2 separate regions of the Homo sapiens genome follow, and region 2 is linked to region 1. A link means that fine-mapping ties the variant in region 1 to the expression of a gene that starts in the linked region. Tissue or cell type: T cells. Region 1 holds a variant in brackets; the other region holds the start of a gene. All regions are shown on one strand. Distances are from middle to middle.

The links. PIP is the estimated chance that this variant, and not a neighbour inherited with it, causes the effect.
Region 2: it holds the start of PFKFB3, and the variant in region 1 is fine-mapped to the expression of PFKFB3 in T cells (TOPMed, PIP above 0.99).

Annotation. Positions count from the first base shown.
Region 1 is chr10:6,157,607-6,168,121 of GRCh38, reverse strand. It overlaps a transcript of PFKFB3 not described here. Among named protein-coding and RNA genes, the nearest start is that of MIR3155B, 11 kb to the right of the region's middle. RefSeq lists enhancers at 1,481-1,980, 3,700-3,809 and a silencer at 4,220-4,699. The variant T/A (reference allele first, on the strand shown) is at 4,163.
Region 2 is chr10:6,197,112-6,207,626 of GRCh38, reverse strand. PFKFB3 (6-phosphofructo-2-kinase/fructose-2,6-biphosphatase 3) reads right to left here and starts at 4,695. Exons shown (of 15, transcript NM_004566.4): 1 at 4,291-4,695. The coding sequence starts at 4,366. PFKFB3-AS1 (PFKFB3 antisense RNA 1) reads left to right here and starts at 4,870. Exons shown (of 2, transcript XR_007062045.1): 1 at 4,870-5,187; 2 at 9,832-10,022. RefSeq lists enhancers at 2,724-3,226, 4,966-5,470, 6,025-6,541, 6,542-7,059, silencers at 3,543-3,622, 3,853-4,362, 4,483-4,592, 4,643-4,972, 6,003-6,222 and a cis regulatory region at 4,501-5,032.

The sequences.
Region 1 (10,515 bases):
AGGCTAGGGAAAGAAGACAATGTGATTTAACCTGTCCCTAAATGGTTAGATAGCATCTCTGGAGTTAAAGATCTCAGCTATCAGTTAAAATGCAAACTGAGCTACTATCTGTCATTTAGAGATGACGCAGATGAAGAAGCTGAGGATGTGACCTAGAAAAAAGCAGGAACGACCTAGGGACTTAGCAAGGGACAAAGGACCAGAAACAGGCAAAGAGAAACAAAATTTAACCTTCTCTACAGTGTCGCTTAGGGCTGGGCTGGCTATCTCCATAGATATCCAATTCCTTAACACCTAAGGGCGTAGGAGAGGAATGAGACCAAGGTTTAGGATGAATAATCTAGGAAATCCCTTGAAAGGAAGAAAAGAGGATCATCAGAGACATCTTCTGGAGCTCCACAAACTGCTCAGAGCAGAGAGGCCACCAGATACGAATGCTGCCTCAGATAATCCAATGGAGGAAGAGGGTTTGGCTGGTATTTTCTGGCTGAGTTCTTGATAAGAAACTGTAATCACATCTGCTAGCTAGGGATCCAAGAAAAACAAGATATTGTCTCTTTATACACATTCCACAGCCCCTACCTTCTCTCAAGAGATGTTAAAATGGCTTAAAATGTGTTAAAATGTGACAATTTAATAAATGTGGCAGAAACAAAAAAGAGACTCCTAAAGTATTCCTCTCTTCAGAGAGTATGAAGCTATTAATTCAGCAAATGAATCCAGGAGCTCAGAAAGGGTTACCCCGTTATGCATCCTCACTACAGACTCAGTATCAGACAGACACTGAGGACCGCAGAGCTGAATGAGACCCGCACAGGCGTTTTCCTCCCGACTTCTCAGAGGACTGTACCTGGTACCACCTGGAGGGCTGAAACGTACTCAGGTAAAAGTTACTCACTCCTCCAGTCCTCAGCTCTTCCTGTGTGAGTCCCATGCTGGCCTTGTCTAGGCACATGGGGTGGAGGGGAGGAGTGTCAGATTTGCAAAAAAGAAAGGCTAGGAGGCCAGGCAAGGTGGCTCACGCCTGTAATCCCAGCACTTTGGGAGGCCGAGGCGGGCCCATCACCTGAGATGGGGAGTTCCTGACCAACATGGAGAAACTCCATCTCCACTGAAAATACAAAATTAGCAGGGCATGGTGGTGCATGCCTGTAATCCCAGCTACTCGGGAGGCTGAGACAGGAGAATTGCTTTAAACTGGGAGGCAGAGGTTTCGGTGAGCTGAGATCGCACCATTGCACTCTAGCCTAGGCAACAAGAGCCAAACTCTGTCTCAAATAAAAAAAAAAAAAAAAAAAAAGAAGAAGAAGGGCTAGGAGAAGTGGGAAAGGTGGACTGCAGTGGAATACTGTGACCACATTTGTTAAACTCAAAGTCATGATTATTCTTCTAGCAAGTCCAAGGGCACCTGGGCCCCTTGTTAAAGGGGCAATGGGCCGAAACAGGTGCTACTCAAGATCCGACTTGCGGTGAGATGGGAGGCTGCCTCCGTCTGAGAGAAGCCCTGGCATTCTCCTCTGACCAGCGACAATCTCCCTCTTCCCCTGAGGTAGACAATGACAAAGCTCAACAGGGCTGGGCAAACCCTCCAGTCCAAAGAAATCAATCAATACACAAACACTTTATTACTTCATGAATAACTGCAACATCATTGTTCACAAAGGAACCCATTCCACTAAAATAGATGCATTGAGTGGAAGGAGGAAGAGGCTCAGAAAAAAAAAAATACTAAGCCGGGCGGTGGCTCATGTCTGTAATCCCAGCACTTTGGGAGCCTAAGGCGGGTGGATCACTTGAGGTCAGTAGTTTGAGACCAACCTGGCCAAAATGACGAAACCCCATCTCTACCACGGTAGCTCACACCTTAATCCCAGCACTCTGGGAGACCGAGGCGGGCGGATCACCTGAGCTCAGGTGTTCGAGGCCAGCCTGGCCAACATGGAGAAAGCCTATCTCTACTAAAAATCACAAAAATTAGCTGGGCGTGGTGGCGGGGCACCTGTAATCCCAGCTACTGGGGAGGCTGAAGCAGGAGAATCGCTTGAACCCAGGAGGCGGAAGTTGCAGTGAGCCGGGATCGTGCCACTGCACTCCAGCCTGGATGACAGAGTGAGACTTCGTCTCAAAAAAAAAAAAAAAAAAAGTTGAGCCTGGTGATCCACGCCTGTAATCCCAGCTACTCACGAGGCTGAGGGAAGAGAATCGCTTGAACCCGGGAGGCAGAGGTTGCAGTGAGCGGAGATAGCACCACTGCACTTCAGTCTGGGCGACAGAGTGAGGTTCTGTCTCAAAAAAAAAAACAAAGACAAAGAAAAAAGAAAATAAAATACTGGGTACTAGGCTTATACCTAGGTGATGAAATAATCTACAACAAACGAGTTTACTTATATAACAAACCTGCACATGTACCTCTGAACTAAAACATTTACAAAAAAATAGACGCATCGAGAAAAGGCAAGGGCTTTGGAGTCTGGCAGATGAGAACTTGCATCTGAGCTCCACTATTCTCCCACTAACATAGGTAAACATCTGGCTCCTGCAAAGAACGCCAGACATGTTCATCCCTGCCGGCTCTGTGTAACTGACCTGAAATTCTCCACCTGGGAAAATCTGTTTTGTGCCCCCAGGGAGAAGGAAAGTCTAGCCTCTTCCTCATAAGGAAGTTGTGGGGAAAAGAGAGATCAGATTGTTACTGTGTCTATGCAGAAAAGGAAGACGCAAGAAACTCCATTTTGATCTATACTAAGAAAAATTGTTTCTGCTTTGAGATGCTGTTAACCTGTAACTGTAGCCCCAACCCTATGCTCACAGAAACATGTGCTGTATTGAATCAAGGTTTAATGGATTCAGGGCCGTGCAGGATGTGCCTTGTTAACAATATGTTTGCAGGCAGTATGCTTGGTAAAAGTCATCGCCATTCTCCATTCTCGATTAACCAGGGACACCATGCACTGCAGAAGGCTGCAGGGACCTCTGCCCAAGAAAGCCTGGGTATTGTCCAAGGTTTCCCCCCACTGAGACAGCCTGAGATATGGCCTCCTGGGAAGGGAAAGACCTGACCGTGCCCCAGCCAGACACCCGTAAAGGGTCTGTACTGAGAAGTAGTGAAAGAGAGGGGGCCTCTTTGCAGTTGAGATAAGAGGAAGCCTTCTGTCTCCTGCTCATCCCTGGGAATGGAATGTCTCGGTGTAAAGCAGACCAATCCCATTCGTTCTATTCTGAGATAGGAGAAAACCGCCCTGTGGCTGTAGGCGATATGCTGGCAGCAATACTGCTCTGTTACTCTTTGCTACACTGAGATGTCTGAGTAAAGGGAAACATAAACTTAGCCTATGTGCACATCAGGGCACAGTACCTTTCCTTGAACTTATTCATGATACAGATTCCTTTGCTCACATGTTTCCCTGCTGACCTTCTCCCCACCTGTTGCCCTGCTACACTCCCCTCGCCAAGATAGTAAAAATAATGATCAATACTGAGGGAACTCAGAGACGGCCACCAGTGCGGGTCCTTCGTATGCTGAGTGCCAGTCCCCTGGGCCCACTGTTCTTTATACTTTGTGTCTTATTTCTTTTCTCAGTATCTCCTCCCACCTGACGAGAAACACCCACAGGTGTGGAGGGGCTGGCCCCCTTCAGAAGTCTTTCAAATACTTCCAGACAGGGGTCAAGTGTGCCCAGTCCTGCCATGTCTGGGTTAAACATCCCCAATTCTTCAACCATGCCTCCTGTGACTTATTTCCTGACCCTTCACCCGCTCACTCACTCTCCCCAAATTCACCGCAGGCCCTGTTCATGAAGATTCGGATGGAGCCACAGACCCAACGCATACGAGGTCCTCAGGGAGTCTGTGTCCCACACTGGGGGCTAGGAGCGGTCCCCGGGTGCTCACTGGCGGCGCCTCCACCGCGGACCTGCCCCAGCCCCGCATCCACGCGCGGGGTGGGGTGGGCCGCCCACTTCTCCCGCGCCCTCAACCCACAGGGAAACGGGCTGCGCGCCCGGGCCGCCCCGCAGAGTCCAGATGCCTAAATCCCTCCTAGTCTGTTTCCTCATCTGCGGCCTGCACGCCCGCCGCAGCCACACCCAACGCCGGGACGCGCAAAAACACCTGCCGGGCCTATTTCCTCTCGGGTATTATTTACAGCCGCTCCCAGGCCTTC[T/A]CGGAAAACATCCTTTGCCGGAAACACAACCCCAGGTCCCCAGAGCGTAGGGGGCCCAGCGCCGGATCCACGCGGAGCTCACGAGCCGGACAGTCGCCGCAGAGCAGGCTGGGGCCGCGCGGCGCACGCCGGGAGGGCGCGCGACAGCACGTGAACGCGGCGTGCCGCACGGCCCGGGAAGGGCGGGGTGCGCGCTGACCGGCTCGTGCGCCGCAGGCAGCAGCCAATCCGCGCGGACCACCCCCAGGCCCCGCCCCCGCCGGTCCCGCCACGCCCCCGTCGGGCCCGCAGCTGCTCCCGGGGCCCGGGACCCAGCTGGCTTAGGCGCCCGAGGTGCACCTGGGAGGAAGCAGGCGCGGGGTGCAATGGAGGGTGGAGGCGCGCACCGTGCCCAGAGCGGGGCTCCCGGGAGCTGATGTCCCGTCTGGCCCCCCTACCTCCCAGCTGGGTCCCCACCTACCCGCCCTGTCTTACCGCCCTCAGCACAGGGACCTGCCTCTGTCCCCACGACGCCAGGCTCCAGGTGTATCTAGGACTAAAGAGTTGACATCCAGTCTATATAGGGTTGTGGGGGGTTACCTTAAAAGTTCCTTTTTGTTATTAAAAAAAGTAATATACACTTGTGCAGTGATTGAGAACAATAGAGGGAGGGAACATAAAATATTCGTGATGGAGTTCCCTTCCAGACTTCCCGTCTCTGGAGATATTTTCTTAAGCCCCAGGAGGCTTGGTCTTGGCCCCCACCTCTGCATTGAATGTCTGATCTCCCTCAACTCGGTGTCATCACACATGGGATAGGGGTCAGAGGTTATCACGAGGAATTTTATGTTGCTAATGAGTACAGCCAGTAGCAAAGGAGATTCAAGATGAAGACAACATTCCTGGGGAAAACACAGAAAGCAAATGAAAGATACAATTATGGGACGGGGGAAGGAGAGGAAGAACTCTGTGCTGCTGGACTGGAATAACTGATCCGTTTGAATTTACAATTTTAAAATGTTTCCCAGCTCCATCCATGAAAAACGCCCTGGAAACACGGACACTCCGGTAGCAAGAAGAGGCACACAAAAGCCCAGATCCAGCCTTCTAAGGACCATCCTCCACTGAAAGTACCCAGGGATCCTTGGAGGAGTGGCTGCTCCCAAGGCCGAGACTGGGAAGGACACAAGGAGCCTGGAACAGGAGTTAAGACAGAGCTCAAAAGCTGAAGGGGGCGTGTCAAGGACACAGCAGCCAGCCTGAAAGGGTTCTCACCCAAACTGGGAGTGGCTTGAGCATCAATTGAGTATGTCAGGAATGGATTCTAACACATGCAGTCATAATTTTAAAAATCCCGGAGTCCACATTGGTACTATTACTACTATTAATAATGATGATGAAATTAAAGCTAGTAAAAGGGAGGATGGGCAGGAAAGAGCTTCTTTACAAAAGAATGCCAACTAATAAATGTGGAAAGAATGACAAAAATGGTAAATAGCCATTTTACGGACACTCTGATAAGTGTTTCACTCAAGAATCATCAATAGATGCTAAAGCTATGAAATAAAAGATTATTCCTTGTATATACACACCCCAAAGAATTGAAAGCAAGGTTTCAAAGAGATGTTTGTAGACCCATGTTCGCAGCAGCATTATTGACAACAGCCAGAAGGTAGAGTAATCCATGTGTCCAACAACAGATGAATGGATACACAAAATGTGACTAAACACACAGAACATTACTCCGCCTCCAAAAAGATGGAAATTCTGACCCATGCTACAACGTGGATGAGCCGTGAGCACTTGATGCTAAGTGAAATAGGCCAGGCACAAACAGACAAATGTTGTAAGATTCCACTCACATGAGTTCCCTAGAATAGTCAGATTCAGAGACAGAAAGAATGGTGGCTGCCAGGAGCTGGGGATTGTGAAGAATGAGAGTTATTGTTTAATGGGTGCAGAGTTTCAGTCTTGCAGGATGAAAAAGTTCTAGAGATGGTTGGTGGTGATGGTTGTACAACACTGAATATATTTAACACCACTGAGCTGTATACTTAAAAATGTTGAAGATGGTAAATTATAAGTGTATTTACCACAATTAAAAATGTTTACATTAGAAATTAAAGGCCACCCTGGGCAACATAGTGAAACCCTGTTTCTACAAAATTAAAAATTAAAAAATTAGCCAGGCATGGTGGCACCCTCCTGTAATCCCACCCACTCGGGAGGCTGAGGTGGGAGGATCGCTTGAGCCCAGGAATTCTAGACAACAGCAAGTCCTGATGGCACCACTGCACTCCAGCCTGGGTGACAAAGTGAGATTCTCTCTCTCTCTCTCTCTCTATATATATATATGTGTGTGTGTGTATATATATGTGTGTGTGTATATATATATGTGTGTGTGTATATATATACATATGTGTGTATATATATACATATGTGTGTATATATCTATGACTCAAGGACATGACAAAATGAAATAAAATAATTTTTTAAATTTTTTATAAAGATTATTGGGAACAGGATATTTTATTCACACTTTGTGAGTGACTGCAAAGGATCCCTCCACAGATAACTTTTTAGTTACAAATGGGAAAAGTTACCTTTACAAATGATCCAAACAAATGGGATCCTCATATTGCTGGTAAAGAGTCACCCTATCACTGCTCCAGGCAGGGGGAACTTGCAGAGGCCCTGAGTCGTAAGTCTTGAGTGTTTGAGCAACAGAAAGAAGAGGCCAAATGAGGTCAGGCGCCGTGGCTCACACCTGTAATTCCAGCACTTTGGGAGGACAAGGCAGGTGAACCATCTGAGGTCAGGAGTTCAAGACCAGCCTGCCCAACATGGTGAAACCCCGTCTCTACTAAAAATACAAAAAGTAGCTGGGCATGGTGGCAGGCACCTGTAGTCCCAGCTACTCGGGAGTCTGAGGCAGGAGAATTGCTTGAACCCGAGAAGCGGAGGTTGCAGTGAGCCAAGATCACACCATTCCACTCCAGCCTGGGCTTCAAGAGTGAAACTCTATCTCAAAAAAATAAAAAAATAAATTAAAAAAATTTAAAAAAAGGCCAAATGCATCAAGGTTGGGAGATGACTGGAGAAGTGACCTGTCATTTCTCTTTTAACTTCTCATTTTGACGTAATTTCAAATTTAGAAAATTTTTAAGTAGTACAAAGAATCTCCATATATCTTCACTAGTTATTAACATTTTACCATATTTACCATATTTGCTTCATCCTCTTTTTTTTTTTTTTTTTTTTTGAGACAGAGTCTTGCTCTTGTCGCCCAGGCTGGAATGCAATGGCGAGATCTCAGCTCACTGCAGCCTCCACCTCCCGGGTTCAAGCAATTCTCCTGCCTCAGCCTCCTGAGTAGCTGGGATTACAGGTGCGTGCCACCATGCCCAGCTAATTTTTTTGTATTTTTAGTATACAGTGTTTCACTGTGTTTGCCAGGCTGGTCTCGAACTCCTGACTTCAGGTCATCTGCCTGCCTCAGCCTCCCAAAGTGCTGGGATTACAGGCGTGAGCCACCGCACCCAGGAAACTGCTGATCTTGTAACAGGTCAAAAGGGAACTCTTCATTCTTTCTTGCTTTCTGGACCTCAGGTAGAGAGGGTGGGAGCAATCACAGTCCTCGCCTCATCTCAGGCTCTCATCACTGATCCCTGAATGGCCCTCTTTTGTATTTGTTTGTTTAATATAACAGACAACTATGACCCCATCAGCCAATTGACATCTCAATTATTGACATTAAGTGACATGTATTTGTATATTCCCCCATCCTCTGCTTCTGCCTCCCTTCAAATGGAAGTAACCATTATCCTGAATCTTGTAAAAATACATAGTTTTATTATGTATATATTCCTAAAAAGCATTGTTTAGTTTTAGTTGTTTTAATTTTATTTTAAAAAGTATCGTAGGCCGGGCATGGTAGCTCATGCCTGTAATCTCAGCACTTTGAGAGGCTCAGGCGGGAGGATTGCTTGAGTCTAGGAGTTCAAGACCAGCCTGGGCAAGATGGCAAGACCTCGTCTCTATTAAAAAAAAAAACAATAGCCAGGCATGGTGGCACACACCTAAAGTCATAGCAACTGGGGAGGCTGAGGTGGGGGGATTGCTTGAGCCTGGCAGGTCAAAGCTGCAGTGAGTCACTGCACTCCAGCCTAGGTGACAATCCGAGACCCTGTTTCAATAAGTAAATAAATAAAAAGTACCTTACCATATGTAATGATTTTGATGTTTTTGGTTTTTGGTTTTTTGGTGTTTTGTTTTTTTTTTTTTTCCTCAGACGGAGTTTCACTCTTGTTGCCCAGGCTGGAGTGCAATGGTGTAATCTCGGCTCACCGCAACCTCCTCCTCCCGGGTTCAAGCGATTCTCCTGTCTCAGCCTCCCGGGTAACTGGGATTACAGGCATGCACCACCACACCCAGCTAATTTTTTTGTATTTTTAGTAGAGACGGGTTTCTTGACAGCTGGTCTCAAACTCCCCATCTCAGGTGATCCCCCCGCCTCAGCCTCCCAAAGTGCTGGGATTACAGGTGTGAGCCACCATGCCTGGTGCTTTTTTTTGTTTTTTTTAATTAAGACAGAGTCTCGCTCTGTTACCCAGGTTGGAGTGCAGTGGCGCGATCTCCTCTCACTGCAACCTCCACCTCCCTTGTTCAAGCGATTCTCCCTTCTCAGCCTCCCAAGTAGCTGGGATTACAGGTGCCCACCGCCACGCCTGGCTAATTTTTGTATTTCTAGTAGAAACAGGGTTTCACCATGTTGGGCAGGCTGATCTCGAACTCCTGACCTCAAGGGATCTGCCTACCTCCGTCTCTCAAAGTGCTGGGATTACAAGTGAGAGCCACAGCGCCTGGCCTGTTTTGGGATTTTTTAATAGTCATCAACAATATTGAGAGTTGCTGTCTATTTGAGTGTAGCTTATTTATAATATTGCCTTGTGTGAATATACTAAGAATAATTTATCCTCCTGTCAAAGTGCATTTGTGCTGTGTAAAGGTTTTTCTATGAGAGTGCTGCTATGAACATGATTGTGTGAACATCAGCAATACTAGGAACGGTATTGCTGGTTTCGAGTAGGTGAATTTCTTTTTTTTTTTTTGAGATGGAGTCTTGCTTTGTCACCCAGGCTAGAGAGCAGTGGCGCTGCGATTTCAGCTCACTGCAGCCTCCGCCTCTTAGGTTCAAGCGATTCTCTTGCCTCAGTCTCTGGAGTAGCTGGGACTACAGGTGTATGCCATCATGCCTGGCTGACTTTTTGTATTTTTAGTAGAGATGGGGTTTCACCATGTCGACCAGGCTGGTCTTGAACTCCTGACCTCAGGTGATCCGCCTGCCTAGGCCTCCCAAAGTGCTAGGATTACAGGCGTGAGCTACCGCACCTAGCCGAAGTATGTGAATTTCAACTTTACACCAAAGAAAAGACCAAACTGCCTCCAAGGCATTTGTACCACTTATCGGCCCACCAGCAATGTGTGAGGGGCTTTTGTGGTCCACATTCTGTCAACACTGAAAGCCATCAGGCTTCCTCATTTCTACCGGGCACACAGAGTGAAACGTGTCTTCATTTTGGTCTCAATCTGCATTTTCCTGATCACTAAAGAGGTGAAGTTTCTTTATTTCCTTTTGTTACACACTGCCTGACTTTTATTTTATTTTATCTTATTTATTTATTTATTTTTAAGATGGAGTCTTGCTCTGTCCCCCCAGGCTGGAGTGCAGTGGCGCAATCTCGGCTCACTGCAAGCTCTGCCTCCCGGGTTCACACCATTCTCCTGCCTCAGCCTCCCAAGTAGCTGGGACCACAGGCGCCCGCCACCACGCCCGGCTAATTTTTTTTTTTTATTTTTAGTAGAGGCAGGGTTTCACCATGTTAGCCAGGATGGTCTCGATCTCCTGACCTCGTGATCCACCCGTCTCGACTTCCCAAAGTGCTGGGATTACAGGCATGAACCACCGCGCCCAGCCACACTGCCTGACTTTTAAAAGGCTTTACCCGTCATTCAGTTATTTCTCACAGAAGCCAGAGAAAAGAACACAACCACAGAGAAACAATGGACTGCCTGCTTATTCAGTCAAGTCGGTTTTTCCATAACGTGGATTGGGATTTACTGTCAGGCCATGTGTTACATATTACTCATTCAAAAATGAATTTTCAAAAGTTTTAGAAGGTTAAGAAATCCATTTCCTATAAAGCAGTCATGATAACATGACCTTTTGCTTCACTGAAATCATAAGTGAAAAAGCCTTTCTATAATCCAGGATTTGAACAACAGATGATTTCAGCTTGAAGTGGGTTCCCTTTGTCATACCCCATTTATAAACAGGACCCGGGAAATGGGGTGACAATAGCAGACGAGATTCT
Region 2 (10,515 bases), 40 kb before region 1:
TCCTAGACACCCTCTTCAGCAATAAACCTCAGGGAGGCTGGGAATGGTAGCACATGCCTGTAACCTCAGCACTTTGGGAGGCCAAGGTGGGAGGATCACTTGAGGCCAGGAGTTCGAGATCAGCCTGAGCAACATAGCAAGACCCCATCTCTATGAAAAAATTTTTTTAAGCTCCAGCTCCCTCTCCCTCTCCCTCTCCCCACGGTCTCCCTCTGATGCCGAGCCAAAGCTGGACTGTACTGCTGCCATCTCGGCTCACTGCAACCTCCCTGCCTGATTCTCCTGCCTCAGCCTGCCGAGTGCCTGCGATTGCAGGAGGCGCCGCCACGCCTGACTGGTTTTCGTATTTTTTTGGTGGAGACGGGGTTTCGCTGTGTTGGCCGGGCTGGTCTCCAGCTCCTAACCGCGAGTGATCCGCCAGCCTCGGCCTCCCGAGGTGCCGGGATTGCAGACGGAGTCTCGTTCACTCAGTGCTCAATGGTGCCCAGGCTGGGGTGCAGTGGCGTGATCTCGGCTCGCTACAACTTCCACCTCCCAGCCGCCTGCCTTGGCCTCCCAAAGTGCCGAGATTGCAGCCTCTGCCCGGCCGCCACCCCATCTGGGAAGTGAGGAGCGTCTCTGCCTGGCCACCCATCGTCTGGGATGTGAGGAGCCCCTCTGCCTGGCTGCCCAGTCTGGAAAGTGAGGAGTGTCTCTGCCTGGCCGCCCATCGTCTGGGATGTGAGGAGCCCCTCTGCCTGGCTGCCCAGTCTGGAAAGTGAGGAGCGTCTCTGCCCGGCCGCCACCCCGTCTGGGAAGTGAGGAGCGTCTCTGCCCGGCCGCCCATCGTCTGGGATGTGAGGACCCCCTCTGCCTGGCTGCCCAGTCTGGAAAGTGAGGAGCGCCTCTTCCTGGCCGCCATCCCATCTAGGCAGTGAGGAGCATCTCTGCCCGGCCGCCCATCGTCTGAGATGTGGGGAGCGTCTCTGCCCCGCCGCCCCATCTGGGATGTGAGGAGCGTCTCCGCCCGGCAGCCACCCCGTCCGGGAGGGAGGTGGGGGGGTCAGCCCCTGCCCGGCCAGCCGCCCCGTCCGGGAGGTGAGGGGCGCCTCTGCCCGGCCGCCCCTACTGGGAAGTGAGGAGCCCCTCTGCCCGGCCACCACCCCGTCTGGGAGGTGTACCCAACAGCTCATTGAGAACGGGCCATGACGACAATGGCGGTTTTGTGGAATAGAAAGGGGGGAAAGGGGCGGGGAAAGATTGAGAAATCGGATGGTTGCTGTGTCTGTGTAGAAAGAAGTAGACATGGGAGACTTTTCATTTTGTTCTGTACTAAGAAAAATTCTTATGCCTTGGGATCCTGTTGATCTATGACCTTACCCCCAACCCTGTGCTCTCTGAAACATGTGCTGTGTCCACTCAGGGTTGGATGGATTAAGGGCGGTGCAAGATGTGCTTTGTTGAACAGATGCTTGAAGGCAGCATGCTCGTTGAGAGTCATCACCACTCCCTAATCTCAAGTACCCAGGGACACAAACACTCTGCCTAGGAAAACCAGAGACCTTTGTTCACTTGTTTATCTGCTGACCTTCCCTCCACTATTGTCCTATGACCCTGCCAAATCCCCCTCTGCGAGAAACACCCAAGAATGATCAATTAAAAAAAAAAAAAAATTTTTTTTAATTAGCCGGGTGTGGTGGTGCACACTTATAGTCCCGGCTACTGGACAGGCTGAGGCGGGAGCATCACTTGAGCCCAAGAGTTGGTGGTTACAGTGAGCTATGGTCGCACCACTGCCCTCCAGCCTGGGTGACAGTGTGAGACTCCACCTCAAAAATGAATAAATAAATAAATAAATAAATAAATAATAAACCTCAGGGAACTCTGCTGCAGACCTCCAATGAGAAGGCCACTTATAAAGGTGGCAACAAGTTTAGGAGAAAGAAAACCCACCCAGCTGGGCGTGGTGGCTCATGCCTATAATCCCAGCACTTTGGGAGGCTGAGGTGGGCGGATCACTTGAGGTCAGGAGTTCAAGACCAGCCTGGCCAACATGGTGAAACCCCGTCTTTACTAAAAATATGAAAATTAGCTGGGCATGGCGGCGTGCGCCTGTAATCCCAGCTTCTCGGGAGACTGAGGCACGAGAATCGCTTGAAACCCGGAGGCAGAAGTTGCAGTGAGCCGAGATCGCACCACTGCACTCCAGCCTCGGTGACAGAGTGAAACGCCATGTCAAAAAAAAAAAAAAAAAAAAAAGGAAGAAAGAAAAACCCACCCAATGTCCCAAATGCCATTAGAGAATCGAGGGAGGGTGTCAGGAAAGATACCAAATAGAAACACCTTCTTCCCTCCATTCCAGTAAGAGTTAAATGTGACTATATAAACTGAGAAAGACACCACCACTTGAAATAAGGATGTGCGATACCCAGGCTGCGGATCTTTTTACAAGAAGGAATGTGTCTGAGACTATACCTCAAAGCCACACAGGAGGATACCAGCAGTAGGCGGGACAAAAGAATTAATCCATTGGCTTTAGCCAAATTCCCACCCTCCAGCTCTGAATGATTCTGACAGGGATTCTTAGGCAAATCTCTCACTGCGTGTGAGACGTGCAGGTTGATGGGGTCTAATGGATCAGGATCCAAGCCTGGAGGGAGGACGCCTTGGTGCACGCTGGAGTTCTCAAGATCACAACTGAGCTGATGCCAACAGATCTCAGAGCCCTGGAAGTCACGGGACACTCCTCTCAGACCCGTGGGCATTCGTATACAATCACATGTATTTACATATGTGGGACTAGCCTCCAATGCAGTTTACAAAGTGCTATAGAGATAATACTTGCTTTATGCAAAAGTTGTTTCTGCATTTGGCCTTGGCCAAACCTCCCTGGGGATTTAAGAGCTGCATTCCACTCCACTTACAGGTTTTACACAAAGACAAGAGAACCATGGGCCACCCCAGTTCAAGCGCATCTGACTGGGCTGGGCAACACACCCACATCCCCCAGTCCTGGGCTACCTCACAAAGAGGGGGAACAAGACCTCTCCTGAGGGCTACCCCAGAACCCTGAAGTCCACCAGGGTGGATCTGCTGACGTCCCCACCCAGGGCACACCATGGGGGTGGGTGTGGGGAGAGGGGCAGGTCTGGACGAGGCCGGTGATTCAGACCGAGCAGGGCTCCAGGAGAGCTGCCAAGTCCCGCGGGGGCCGTCCTAAGAAACGTAGTAGCCGGGCAACCCTGCCTGCCAGCCGCCTGCGCTCAGGCGCCTTCGGATGACCCGAAGCCACCTCGAGAGTTTGCACCTGGATCCCACGGTCACTACTCAGGCTACGACCTGACCTGGGCAAAACCGCACCAGGCGGCTCCCTGTCCAGCCCATGGGAGCCGGGGCGCATTACCTGGAGAGGCAGCGTCGCCCCTCTGCGCTGCCCACCCGCCCTTTTCCGCGGCGGCGCTCCGCAGCTGAGGTGGAGCTCGAGGTAACCCTCTCCCAAGCGATCGCTGGTGGCGGGGGCGGCGACCGGCGGGGCGGGGCAGGGTACTGCCAGCCAATTCCGAGCACCGGGGGGTGCGTGCGCCCGGGGCGCGTGGAGCAGCGCCAACCGTGCACTCACCAACCCACCGACCCTCCCCAAAGCCGGGGACACAGGCGTGGCTCCAGGTGGCTCTCCTGGCGCCCCCAGCACGGGCGCCCCCATGGCACTGGAGATGCACGGAAGAGAGAGAAGGAGAGAGAAAGAGATAAAAGCAGAAAGAAACAGTGGGAGAGGAAGGAGGTAGAAACAGAGAAAAACAGAGACATATATATCGAAAGAGAAAACAGGACAGAGAAATAGGTTATTAAGTGAAGCGAGGGGATAGGAATGCATAGCAAGGCGGGAGAGGAGATGGAAACATGCAGAGAGAGGAGATCCGGACGGTGAAAAGGGGCGGAGGCGCGAGCGGCCGGGTCCCTGGGCTGCGCTCCGGCGACGGCCGCCCGAGACGGGTGTCGAGGACAGGGATCGCGGAGGATGTGGATCCCCTCCCTGGCCTGCCCAGGCGCGCGCGTCCCTCCGTCTCGGGGTACGCAGCCCGGCCGGGCGCACTCGCCGTTTCCGGGCCGGCGGGGCAGCCACCGGGACAAGGGCCACAGCGCCCCCGCCGCCCGGCCAAGGACGCGCAGCCCGCGCCTCCGCCCCGCCCCGCCGGCGCGACCCGCACGGGCGCGCCCCCCGCAGAGGGGCGTCGGCACAAAGCCGCCCCACACAATGGCCCGGCCCGGCGCAGCCCGCCCTGCAACCCGGCTCCGCGCAGCTGCACTCACATCTGGGCAACGAGGGCCTGTGGTCCACGGGCACCCAGATCTTCTGCACTCGGCTCTGCGTCAGTTCCAACGGCATCTTCGCGGCTGCGCCCGACGGCCCGCCTCCCGGGGCCGAGATCCCGACGCTGGCAGGAGAGCGGCCGCCGACCCCCGGAACAAAGGAGGAGAGGGGGGCGTGCGCCGGCGCGCGGCCGGGCGTTTCCTGCGCTGCCAGGGGAAACGTGCTTTGGGCTAAGTTCCGGACCCTCGCCTGTGCGGGGCTCGACGTGTGCTGCGAGGGTAGCGAGGCTGGGGATGCCCGGCACGGCCGGCTCGTCCGCTCGGAAAGCTCTGGGATGCTCGGGCGCAGTGACAGCCGCGCTCTCGCCACCAGGCCCTGCTGCTCGCCTCCTCTCCGGCTTGGCTGGGATGCCCCGCGCACCGCCGGCTTTTAAAGAGTCCGGGCTGGCCGCAGACGCGTACGTCAGCCTCGGGGCGGGCCGCATTCCTTGGGTCCCAGCCCCCTTCCACGTGGGGAGGAGGGTGGGCGAGCCGGGAAGCAGCCTGCGAGCTCCCCCTGCGGGCCGGCGACGGCGGTGCACCAGCTCCCGCCGCCCTGCCCCGGGCCTGGAGCGCGCCCAGCCCTGCTGAAGGGTCCTGGCTGCTGTTATCCCCTCGTCCCGTTGTCCCCTCGGGACGTCTGGCACAGCTTCCCCGACTAATTCCGGCCCCTCACCTCAACTGTGCTGGCCGGGAGGAGAGCAGAGACGCAGTCCTGCCCAGTGTAGACCGTGGACCCCGCAGCCGAATCCCTTGGGAAGCTGCTTAAAGTGCATCCTACCAATGCAGCTCCTTTAGGGCCATGGAGCCCCAATACTCTGCATTCCTAACACGCGCTGTGGGGCAGGCGCAGTCCAGGTAAGGACATGGGCCAGGCTGCTCCCTGATAATACCCGTGAGCCCATCCCCCGCCACGACCCGGGCGACCCGCGGGGAGGAGGCTTCCCTGATCCTCCCACCTCACCTCGTCCTTGTCCACTTTGCTGAATCCCTTAGAAACCTGGACTTGAACTGAGCCTTGCTCCCCTCCCCTAGCCCAAAGACTGGGAACCTTGAGAGGCCCGCGGTGCTGGGTACGAGGAGGGGGCGGGAAAGCCCCGGGGAGCTGGACTGAAGTGGACTGGGGCTGGGGGCAGCTGGCATCTGGTTTTCACACTCACCATGTACACCATTCAATAAACCTTTATCGCCCCGAGTAGAAGAATGAATAAAACTAGACCCATTTCGATCTGCAATTCATTACCTAAGTCGAGGGAAAACTATTGGGGGCGGCCCCTTATTAGGCAGACTCCTAAAATTCACTCCGTTATCCTGCACACCCTGCAGCTCTGCCTCCCCACTTTTTGGTGCATGCGTGCCCCGTCTCCTTTCCCGGCCCTCGCAGTTTGCACCAGCTCGCGACTTGTGACAGTCGTGCAGTCAGGTCAGAGGCGTGCGGGGAAGATCTGGGTTGCTTTTGGTGGGGAACCGCCGCCCGCGCCGGGACGGATGTAACTTTTGCAAACGAAGCCTCAGTACGGGAGCGCTGCGCCGCCTTGCAGAGAGGTGCACACTTAGCGCTGAGGCTGGGCTGTGATTGGAGGGAAGGCGGCGCTCGCTGAAACCTACACCGCGGCGGAAAAGTCTGCGCAGAGGCTGCCACACGTCGCTCACGTCCCGCATGCTCCACAGGGAGGGCGCCCGCGCCCAGGCGGCGACCGGGGCTGCTCCCGCCCCGCGCGCCCGCCCCACCCGGGCCTCCACTCCTCCCGACCCGCCGCCTGCCGAGGGGCCCCGGAACGCGCAACATCGGCCACCTGGCCTGTGCCCCGCCACCCTCCCCCACGCCTCGACCCCCACTCCCCCTCCCGCCTCGACCCCCACTCCGGCACCCCGCCCCCCGCGCCGCCCTCTCAGAGCCCCTGTTCCCGCGACAGCTTTGCTGACGGTCTGGTTTCCGCGCTCTGGCGGCTGTTCAGAAACCCGATGCGTTGCATTTGGACTTGTTTTCTGCAGTGGGAGCACATGCCAGAGGCGACACCCTAAACGCCCAGGGGAGAGTCCCACTCCACTCCTGAAATAAGAGTGGGCTGACCCGAAGAGGGAAACAGCAGGCAGCGAGCGCCCGCGCCACCGGGACGAGTTCCCGCCCTGGGGTTCGCGGGGGTCGGGGAGGGCTGTAGGCTGCGCGCGGGGAGAGCGGCTGCACCCCTGCAAAGAGCGCCCGCGGTTCCTGGGGAATGACGGTGCACCTGCGCGCCCGCTGCTTGCCCACCGATTTTGCACACGTACAGGCGAGGCAAGCGGACCAGGGGGCCTTCTTCCACACTCCCTACAAGCTTGCAAACACTGCTGGTTTCAGCTCACAGGGAGAGCAGAGAGACGGCGTCTGCCCCAGCAGCGGCACATCATTCATCTCTTGACCTAGATAACGCATCTGACAGCGGTCAGCTCTTAGGGCACAGGGAGTTGATGTCCCGGAGGTCCAGCTGAACTTTCGCAGACCGGGCACTTTTCCTGTCTGTCAATAACGCGTTCCGAGTCTAGAGGGAAGACTATGTTCTTCCCCCATTCGCCTCCTGCACTTGCTCTGCAGCAGGCAAAAGGAAGTTAACTCAATCCCCGCCCCACCACCACCCCCCGCCCCCCCCCCCCCCCCGCTCCTTACATCTAAGTGCAAACTGGGAGTGCGTGGGAGCAAGGACGAATGCACACCTGTTTTTGTTTTTTTAATGGCCAGCTAGAACTCCTGGCAGCCTTTACAGCCCCAGGTAAGTTAGGGTAGAGCCCTCATGAGAGATGAAACTGCTTCACTACAAAATCACTTATAAACAACCCAACTGCAACTGTATTCTGGTAATTTACTGGTTCCGAGTTTACTAGTTTGGACATCCTCCTAACTCATTCCCTAGCTCTGCTAATGCCCCATCTTCACCCCAAATGTCCAACTAGGGCTTGGCCAACTTCCCTCCTACTAACCTGGGTATCACAAAGGCGGCCCTTCAGAAAACGCTCCCAATAACGTAAATGTTCCTCTAATACGATGATTCTTTTACAGCTACAATAACACCAAGGCTAGCGCAGATTGATGATTTCTCCTAGGTCGTGGTCCTAGAAACTATGAAAGATAGAAGGAAACTTCAAGACTACCTAGTCAACCCCACTTGCTTTATGGGAAGAAGTAAAGGGAGTTGAGATTAGAGTAGTCAAGGAACCAGGTCAGAGATCAAAGAAGAAAGCCAATTAGGAGCAGAGTTTGCTGGGGTTTTTGTTGGTTTTGTTGGTTTGTTTTTGTTTTTCCCTTCTGCTTGACACGGACGCAGATAGCTAGCTCCCTAGGAGACTCATTATAGGGCCACCCTAACCCCAGGGTGCTGAGTGGAATCCTAATTTAGCCGCTGATCAGGCTGTGATTCAGACTCACCTAGAACAATTGAGCTGTTTGGGAAGGAAAGGTCAGAGAAGGACCTTCCGTGAGTAGAATGAGACATTAGCAGGGCAATTATTGAAAATGATCCTGGCCAGTGCAGTGGTTCGCACCTGTAATCCCAGCACTTTGGGTGGCTCAGGCGGACGGATTGCTTGAGCTCAGGAGTTAAGAGACCAGCCTGGGCAACATGAAACCCCATCTCTGCAAAAAAAAAAAAAAAAAAAAAAAAATTTAAAAATAGCTGGGCATGGTGGCTCGCACCTGTGGTCCCAGTTATTTTGGAGACTGAGGTGGGAGGATCACCTGAGCCCAGGAGGCAGAGGTTGCAGTGAGCTGTGATTGCACCATTGCACTCCAGCCTGGGTGACAGAGTGAGACCCTGTCACAAAAAAAGAAAAAAAAAAAAGCAAGTGCCTGGTGAGGTGCTCACATAGCTGAATTCACTGAGCTCGGTCCAGCCTTGAGAGGACAGTGGAGTGGTTTTTCTCCAGGATCACCTTTGTTCCCACACTTCTGTGCCAGCCAATGTCATCTAACTCCTACCAGTGCTTCCAAATGCTGCTGTAACAACAAACACAAGCAACCGCATTTCCGTGATCCTGTGCCAGCCATAGCCAGGTTAAAACGTTCAAACCAAGCTAGGACCTACCCGCTGCCCCAGAGAGAGTGAGGTGACAAGCATGGTAGTCTGGGAGCAATCAGAAGTTGCTCATTAGACACCAAGTGTCACTATTTGCTCTTGAGAAAAATCCCATGTATGAGGGAGAGAAGTGAGACACCAAACAAAACACTGAAACAAACCCTTCCATCATCACCAGCCAAAGACACGGGGAGGGGGCTCTTATTTCAATAAATTATTTGTAACTCACACATGATTGAGAACAGAGACTGAGACTATCCACACAATGTCATGTTGGGGGTTCGAAAAACCAATTCATAACATGCACATAGATGTTTATACCAGCTTTATTGGTAATTGTTAAAATATGGAAACAACCAAGATGTCCTTTGGTAGGTAAATGGATAAACTATGGAACATCCAAACAATGGAATATGATGCCGTTCTAAAGAGAAATGAGCTATCAAGTCATGAAAAGACATGGAGAGGCCAGGTGTGGTGGCTCACGCCTGTAATCCCAGTACTTTGGGAGGCCAAGGCGGGCAGATCACTTGAGGTCAGGAGTTCGAGACCAGCCTGGCCAACATGGCAAAACCTCGTCTTTACTAAAAATACAAAAATTAGCTGGGTGTGGTGGTACACACCTGTAATCCCAGCTACTCGGGAGGCTGAGGCACAAGAATCACTTGAACCCAGGAGGTGGAGGTTGCAGTGAGCCAAGATTGTGCCACTGCACTCCAGCCTGAGTGACAGAGCGAGACTCTGTCTCAAAAAAAATTATTATTTTTCTACAAATATCATATATTTTTCTCCAATCTAGTGGACTTAGTGTCTCATTAAGTGGATGTGAGGAGAATACACAGCAGCCATAGCCTGGCTCTGGGTGAAGTGACTCAAATTGCTCAACTTAAGTCCCGGCAAACCCTCCAGTAAGTTTCCATTTCTCTCTGCCCCGACCCTGTCACTCCATCTCCTGTGGGCATTTCCTTTTCTTTTCTTTTCTTTTTCTTTTTTTTTTTTTTTTGAGACGGAGTCTCATGCTATCACCCTGGTTGGAGTGCAGTGGTACCATCTCGGCTTACTGCCACCTCCGCCTCTCAGGTTCAAGCGATTCTCCTGCCTCAGCCTCCTGAGTAACTGGTATTACAGGCTTGTGCCACCATGCTTGGCTAATTTTTTTTGTATCTTTAGTAGAGACAGCATTTCACCATGTTGGCCAGTCTGGTCTTGAACTCCTGACCTCAGATGATTTATCTAAGTAAATTGTTCCAGAAAATAGAAAAGAATAAAAGCAACTCTAGTCATTTCTGAGGCTAGCATAACCTTGATTGGTAAAACAAAAAGTAAAAGAAAAGGAAATTTTAAGTTCATTTTATTTATGACAGACAGAGATATAAGATTCCTATGTAAAATATTAGATCGTGAGAGCCAACCATATACAGTTGACCTTGAACAACACATTTGAATCACACAGGTACACCTACTTTCTCCTGCCTCTGCCACCCCTGAGACAGCAAGACCAGCCCCCTCTTCCTCCTTCCCAGTCTACTCAACATGAAGACGACAGAGAGGAAGACCTTTATGAGGATTCACTTCCACTTAAGGAATAATGAATATGTTTTATCTTCCTTAAAAAAAAAATAAAAGATGTGGAGGATGGCTTGAGCTTTTTGTGTATTTCTCAAAAGTTTTAAGATGTCCTAATTTATTGGTCAAGCAAAAGAAGAAGAAAAGAAATACAGTCATGTGTTGGCTAATGATGGGGATATGTTCTGAGAAATGCATCACTAAGCAATTCCGTCATTGTGCAAACATCACAGAGTGAACTTACACAAACCTAGATGGCAGAGCCTACTACACATCTAGGTTACATGGTATAGCCTGTTGCTCCTAGGGTACAAACCTGTACAGCATGTGACTCTACAGAATACTGTAGGCAACTGTAACACAATGGTAGGTATTTGTATATCTAAACATAGAAAATGTACTGTAAGGCCAGGTGCTGTGGCTCACACCTGTAATCCTAGAACTTTGAGAAGCCGAGGTGGGTGGATCATCTGAGTTCAGGAGTTCGAGACCAGCCTGACCAACATGGTAAAACTACTAAAAGTACAAAAATTAGCTGGGCATGGTGGCGGGGACCTATAATCCTAGCTAC